2 linked regions of the Homo sapiens genome follow. The protein of the gene in region 2 purifies or fractionates together with the protein of the main gene of each other region. This does not show direct contact. Each region holds a gene or a part of one and is shown on either strand. Other genes may lie near its edges.

Evidence for each region.
Region 1: the proteins of TICAM1 (region 2) and RIPK1 purify together in Homo sapiens (affinity purification with western blotting; 4 studies listed by BioGRID). This does not show direct contact.

The regions. Positions count from the first base shown.
Region 1 is NC_000006.12:3,102,743-3,106,493, reverse strand, and holds part of RIPK1 (receptor-interacting serine/threonine-protein kinase 1), read right to left. Parts: intron 2,270-3,751; coding exon 2,179-2,269; intron 1,073-2,178; exon of another isoform or gene 1,013-1,072; coding exon 443-1,012; exon of another isoform or gene 1-442. UniProt on the Homo sapiens protein: Serine-threonine kinase which is a key regulator of TNF-mediated apoptosis, necroptosis and inflammatory pathways.
Region 2 is NC_000019.10:4,821,410-4,825,386, forward strand, and holds part of TICAM1 (TIR domain-containing adapter molecule 1), read right to left. Parts: intron 1-3,977.

The DNA.
Region 1 (3,751 bases), on a different chromosome or scaffold from region 2:
TGGGAGTTAAAAGAAAATTTTTCATCACTAATGGTAGTCTTTGAGCTATATAAGGTCAGAAACAAAAATATCCAAGACTGATTTCTTACCTTCAAAAAGTAGCAAGCAAGGTAAAAGCAAATAAGCAGATAACTTCCCATTTATCAGAGATTGGGTGAAATAGGACTACTATGCACTCCAGGTTAGAGTCAAAGATGCCTGCCAGTCACAAGGACCTGTAACCCGATGCTTGCGGGCATCTGTGATGAATCCTAGCCCCAGATGAAATACTCCCAGACCAAGTGGTTTGGCAGGGTCCATTCCACAGGGGCAATTTGCATCTGGCAGCTGATGATGCCCTCTGTCCCCATTATAACCCACAATCTATAATAGAGCTGCTTGGTTGCTGTATTTTCTGAAAAATAAAAAAAGACAAGCTTGTGACTATCGAAGACCCATTTACCTGTTGGTGGCAAGGAGCTGAATGGCATGGTGGGTGTATTTCCTAGATAGTTGGTCTCAGGCACTGGGATATTATGCAGACTAGGCATATGACTTGGAATTGGCCTGTACCAAACTCTGGGACCTGCTGTTCCTGGATCCAGTGGTCTTGTTCCAAAGCCATGTGAGCTATATAATCCATTGTTCTGATACAGTACTTGAGGTTGGCTGGTGAGCCCTGAGGGCTGGTGCACTGCATTACCATGACTGGCTGCACTGGAATAAGCAGTGCCTTTTCCCTCTGTATTCTGAAAATTCTCGTAAGGTCTTTGCTGTGCAAAAGGGTCATGGGAGACCCTGCGTCTCCTTTCCTCCTCTCTGTTGTAAGCCACATTCTGTCTGGGCTGCTGTTTCGTCTGCCTGTCCATGCGGCTGCCATAAAGATGGTAGTTGGCTTCGTCTTGGAGTTTACTCTGCAGGCTGGGCTCATTCTCTTCTTGTGGGTGCTCCAGGGAAGGAGCAAACCAGGACTCCTCCACAGGACCCATCCCAAGTCCCTGGGAACTGTGCAGTGAACCAGGCTGTTCTGTGGCTGAGAAGAAATGATCAACATTAGAATGGGTGTCATGAAACATTAAAAAGTAAAATAAAATCTGAGCGCCGTCATGAATCTGTATCTCAAAGTAACACACAGAAAACAAGTACGAGACCAGTCCAAAGCATTTAGGAGATGGTCCTCTTCCCACAAGCTTTACAAATAATAATAGGAGCTCCTCGCTGGCAGTAAGAGAGTACTAGGAAAATTATAGCAAGCAAGAGAAAAGCGGCTGTTGCAGGGATGATCAAGGAAAAAAGGGACTTGGTTTGGAGCAGAGAAGGTGGTTGTCTCCTTGGAGCAATTCAGGTGGAAAATAAGATCTGTGGCTGGGTGCGGTGGCTCACGCCTGTAATCCTAGCACGTTGGGAGGCTGAGGCGGACGGATCACCTGAGGTCAGGAGTTCGAGACCAGCCTGGCCAACATGGCGAAACCCCATCTCTACTGAAAATACAAAAATTAGCCGGGCATGGTGGTGCATGCCTGTAATCCCTGCTGCTTGGGAGGCTGAGGCAGAAGAATCGCTTGAACCTGAAAGGCGGAGGTTGTAGTGAGCCAAGATCACACTACTGCACTCCAGCCGGGGTGACAGACTCTGTCTCCAAAAAAAAAAGATCTGCAGCAGCTCTGTCCTAAGCATGTCCCATGAATTCTTTCATTCTTGAAGAGCCCTATGAGAGGAGGAGCAATTATGATTTGATGAGTGAAGTTTAGAAGAGGTTAAGTAATTAGCCACAGATCAGGTAGCTAAGCGGCTTCAGTATCCTATACTCTGCCATCCCTTTTGTTACAGTGAAAAAAGTATCCCTACTTGACCTGAGACCAGCCTCTCTGCTTGTACCCTGGCTGTAAGTCACTCCGAGCTCCTCAGGGACTTTGCTCTCACATATGTCCCCTTCCTTCTTCTGAACTGTCACTTCTCCCCATCAGATATATTAGGCCTTTTGTTCAGAACACTCTATGACTGGTGAGCACACTGTTACTTCATATTTCAAATACATGTAACTTGACTCTCGAATATTATTATAAATTCCTGTAAGGCAGGTGTTCACTTTTATAGTTTCTTCTGTTTCCCATATGGTCCTGAATAGTCTTTTAGAGAGTGGAGTGAATGAGTAACCAAACAAATAAATGAATAGATTTTGACCATAGTGTAATTTACCTGAATTTGACCGGCTTGAAGGTACTGCCACACAATCAAGTTGAAGAGACTGCATTCTCTTCACAACTGCATTTTCGTTTGAATACTCTTTCTATAATTAAGAGCATAAATACACACTTTAGTGAACAGCAGGAAATAGAGTCCCAGAAAATTTTAACGAGAAGAATTCATATTTTCAGAAGGTAGAAATTTCACACAGATCTTACAAGTAGTAATTTTTTAAAATTAATGTTTTTCCCAAATAGCCAAAATGATCTTTAAAAAGAACAAGGTTGTAGGACTCACACTTCCTGATTTCAAAACTTACTACAAAGCTACAGTATTCAAAACAGCGTAGGACTGGCATAAAGACAGGCACATATGCCAGTGGGGCAGAATGGAAAGCCTAGGAATAAACCCTCCTATAAATGGCCAATTGATTTTTGACAAGGTTGCCAAGAGCATTCGATGGGGGAAAACTGAATATACACATATGAAATAATGAAGTTGGACCCTTATTTCATACCATATAAAAATTAACTCACAATGGATCAAAGACTTAATTTAAGGGCTAGTGCCACAAAAATTCTTAGAAGAAAACACAGGGAAAAAGCTTCATGACATTGGACTTGGCAGCGATTTCTTGGTTATGACACAAAAGCACAAACAAAAGTAAAGAGTAAAAATAATACATCAGAATTAAAAGCTTCTGTGCATCAAAGGATACTATGAAAAGAGTAAAAAGATAACCTACAGAATAAGGAAAAAATACTTTGGGAGGCCAAGGCAGGTGGATCCCATGAGGTCAGGAGTTCGAGACCTGCCAGGCCAACATGGTGAAACCTTGTCTCTACTAAAAATACAAAAACTAACCAGGCATGATGGTGTGTGCCTGTAGTCCTAGCTACTCGGGAGGCTGAGGCAGGAGTTATCTCTTGAACCTGGGAGGCAGAGGTTGCAGTGAACCAACATTCTGCCACTGCACTCCAGTCTGGGTGGCGACAGAGCAAGATTCTGTCTCCAAAAAAAAAATAAATAAATAAAATAAAATAATGGGGAAAAAGTTGCAAACAATATATATCTGAAAACGGATGAAATCCAGAACATAAAAAAAAAAAATCCTACAACTCAACAACAAAAAACAAACAACCCAATTCAAAAATGGGCAAAGAACTTGAATAGCAGTTTCTCCATAGAAGATATACAAATGGCCAATAAGCCATGAAGATGCTCAACATCATGAGTCATAGGGAAATGCAAGTCAAAACCACCATGAGGTACACTTTCACACTCCTTAGAGTGACTATAATATAAAAATGGTAAATAAAAAGTGTTGGTAAGATGGTGGAGAAATTAGAATCCTTGTGCATTGCTGGTGGGGAATATAAAATGGTGTAGCTACCATGTAAAACAATTTTAACAGTACTTAAAAGTTAAACATGGCCGGGCATGGGAGCTCACGCCTGTAATCCCAGCACTTTGGGACCTCAGATCACCTGAGGTTAGGAGTTTGAGACCAGCCTGGACAACATGGTGAAACCACCCCATCTCTACTAAAAATACAAAAAACTAGCCGGGCGTGGTGGTGTATGCC
Region 2 (3,977 bases):
CCACTTATTTGAGGGCTTACTACATGCTATATTGTGCTCCCCATCTGTTCTTTAAACTGGGCACAGTCCTGCCTCAGGACCTTTGCACTGGCTGTTCCCTCTGCCTATATCTCTGTTACCCCCCAGATATCCCTATGGCTCACTCCCTTACCCTCCTTCATGTTTTTGGTTAAGCCTGTCCTGATCCCACCGTGCAGATCTCCCTTTGACAGGGGCCACAAAATATGGCCCACGATTTTTTTTTTTTTTTTTGAGACAGAGTCTCACTCTTGTTGCCCAGGCTGGAGTGCAATGGCACGATCTCGGCTCACCGCAACCTCCGCCTCCCGGGTTCTAGCGATTCTTCTGCCTCATCCTCCCAAGTAGCTGGGATTACAGGCATGCACCACCATGCCTGGTTAATTTTGTATTTTTAGTAGAGACGGGGTTTCTCCATGTTGGTCAGGCTGGTCTTGAACTCCCAACCTCAGGTGATCTGCCTGTCTCGGCCTCCCAAAGTGTTGGGATTACAGGCATGAGCCACCCCGTCCAGCCTTTTTTTTTGAGACAGAGTTTCACTCTTGTTGCCCAGGCTGGAGTACAATGGTGCAATCTCAGCTCACCGTAACCTCCACCTCCCGGATTCAAGCAATTCTCCTGCTTCAGCCTCCCGAGTAGCTGAGATTACAGGCGTGCGCCACCATGCCCGGCTAATTTTGTATTTTTAGTAGAGACGGGGTTTCTCCGTGTTGGCCAGGCTGGTCTTGAACTCCCGACCTCAGGTGATCCGCCTGCCTCTGCCTCCCAAAGTGCTGGGATTACAAGCGTGAGCCACTGTGCCGGCCAATTGTTTTTTAGTTTTGTCTTGTTTTGACACAGAGTCTCGCTCTGTCGCCCAGGCTGCAGTGCAGTGGCATGATCTTGGCTCACTGCAACCTCCACCTCCCAGGTTCAAGCGATTCTCCTGCTTCAGCCTCCCGAGTAGCTGGGACCACAGGCACCCGCCACCACGCCCAGCTAATTTTTGTACTTTTTATAGAGACGGGGTTTCACCATATTGGCCAGGCTGGTCTCGAACTCCTGACCTTGTGTGATCCGCCCACCTTGGCCTCCCAAAGTGCTGGGATTATAGGTGTGAGCCACTACACCCAGCCAATTGCTTTTATAAATAAAGTTTTATTGCAACACAGACATCCTCACTCATTTACACACATCGATGGCTGCTTTCCCACTAGAGTGATGGAGTAGCTACAACAGAGACCATGGGGTCTACAAAGTGGAAAATATTCACTCTCTGACCCTTGACAGAAAAAGCTTGTAGACACCTGGGTTATGAGACAGGCATGTGATTTTTTTTATTTTCCATTCCACAGAGGGGCAAACATGACCAAGATCACACAGCTAGTGACTGACAGAGCAGCCATTTGATGCCAATGTTTGTAACTGTAACACCAAATGCCTTTTAATTAGTATGGGGTATGACTGGCTATTATGGGTTCAATCGTGTCTCTCCCCAAAATCATATGTTGAAGTGCCAACCTCCAGTAGCTCAGAATGTGACTTTATTTAGAGAAAAGGCCTTTTTTTGGTTTGTATTTGGCTTTGGTGTTTTTGTTTGTTTGTTTTTGATGTTGAAAGTATTTTTATTTGGCCGGGCCTGACGGCTCATGCCTGTAATCCCAGCAATTTGGGAGGTGGAGGTGAGCTGATCACTTGAGATCAAGAGCTCGAGACCAGCCTGGCCAACATGGTGAAATCCCGTCTTCACTAAATATACAAAAATTACCCAGGCATGGCCAGGCGCAGTGGCTCACGCCTGTAATCCCAGCACTTTGGGAGGCCGAGGTGGGCAGATCACCTAAGGTCAGGAGTACGAGACCAGCCTGGCTAACATGGCGAAACTCCATCTCTACTAAAAATGCAAAAATTATCCAGGCATGGTGGCGGGCGCCTGTAGTCCCAGCTACTCGGGAGGCTGAGGCAGGAGAATGGCGTGAACCTGGGAGGCGGAGCTTACATTGAGCCAAGATAGCGCCACTGCACTCCAGCCTGGGTGACAGAGCAAGACTCTGTCTTAAAAAAAAAAAAAAAAAAAAATTAGCCAGGCATGGTGGCATGCGCCTGAAATCCCAGCTACTCAGGAGGCTGAGGTGGGAGGATTGGTTGAGCCTGGGAGGTTGAGGCTGCAGCAAGCAAGCTAAGATCTCGCCACTGCACTCCAGCCTGGGTAACAGAGCAAGAACCTGCATCAAAAAAGGAAAAGGCAGGGGGCATTCAGATACAGACACGTAACTGCACAGAAGGAAGATGATGTGAGGAGACCCAGGGAGAAGGCGGCCGTCTGCAAGCTAAGGAGAGTCCTCAGAGGGAACCAACCCTACAACACCTCGATCTTGGACTTCCAGCCTCCATAACTGTGAGAGAATAAATTTCTGTTGCTTAAGCCATCCGGGCTGGGGCACTTTATTACCACAGCCACAGTAGCTAATACACTGCAGATACTTGCAGTCTAGATCAGCCTCAACACTCTCTGTCTGTGTTGTCCAGTATGGCAGCCCCCAGCTACCTGTGTCTACTGGGCACCTGAAATGTGGCTGTGGTAGTAAAGAGACACTGAATTTTAATTTTTTTTTTTTTTAGGATGAAGTCTTGCTCTGTCGCCCAAGCTGGAGTGCAGTGGTGCGATCTTAGCTCACTGCCACCCCCCTCTCCTGGGTTCAAGTTATTCTCGTGCCTCAGCCTCCCCAGTAGCTGGGATCACAGGCACATGCCACCACGCCCAGCTAATTTTTGTATTTTTAGTAGAGACAGGGTTTTGCCATGTTGGCCAGGCTGGTCTTGAACTCCTGACCTCAAGCTATCTGCCTGCCTCAGCCTCCCAAAGTGCTGGGATTACAGGTATGAGCCACCATGCCTGGCTTGAATTTTAACTTTTATCCAATTTTTTTTTTTTTTTTTTTTTTGGAGACAGAGTCTCGCTCTGTCATCCAGGCCGGAGTGCAGTGACGCAATCTCAGCTCACTGCAACCTCCGCCTCCTGGGTTGAAGAGATTCTCCTGCCTCAGCCTCCTGAGTAGCTGGGATTACAGGTTCGCACCACTATGCCCGGCTAATTTTTGTATTTTTAGTAGAGATGGGGTTGCCTCATATTGGTCGGGCTGGTCTGGAACCCCTGACCTCAGATGACCCACCTGCCTCGGCCTCCCAAAGTGTTGGGATTACAGGCGTGAGCCACCGCAGGACACAAAGAAGGGAACAACAGGGCCAGGCACAGTGGCTCACACCTGTAATCCCAGCACTTTGGGAGGCCGAGGCAGGTGGATCACCTCAGGTCAGGAGTTCAAGACCATCCTGGCCAACATGGCGAAATCCCGTCTCTACTAAAAATAGAAAAATTAGCCACGTGTGGTGGCGGGTGCCTGTAGTCCCAGCTACTAGGGAGGCTGAGGTGGGAGAATCACCTGAACCCAAGAAGTCGAGGCTGGAGTGAGCAGAGATCACACCACTGCACTCCAACTTGGGTGACAGAGCAAGACTCTGTCTCCAAAAAAAAATAAAATAAAATAACAGAGCCTGCTTAAGGGTGGTGGTGAGGAGGAGGGAGAGGAGGGTCGGGAGCGGTGGCTCACGCCTGTAATCCTAGCACTTTGGAAGGCCGAGGTGTGTGGATTGCCTGAGCTCAGGAGTTCGAGACCAGCCTGCGCAACATGGTAAAACCCCGTTTCTACTAAAATACAAAAAATTAGCCGGGTGTGGCAGTGTGCGCCTGTAATCCCAGCTGCTTGGGAGGCTGAGGGAGGAGAATTGCTGGAACCCGGGCGGCAGAGGTTGCAGTGAACTGAAATGGCGCCACTGCACTCCACCCTGGGCGACAGAGCGAGACTCTGTCTTAAAACAACAACAACAAAAAACTACCTATCAGGTACGACAGTTATTACCTGTGTGATGGAATAATCTGTACACCAAACCCTGTGACATGCCATTTAGCTATATAACAA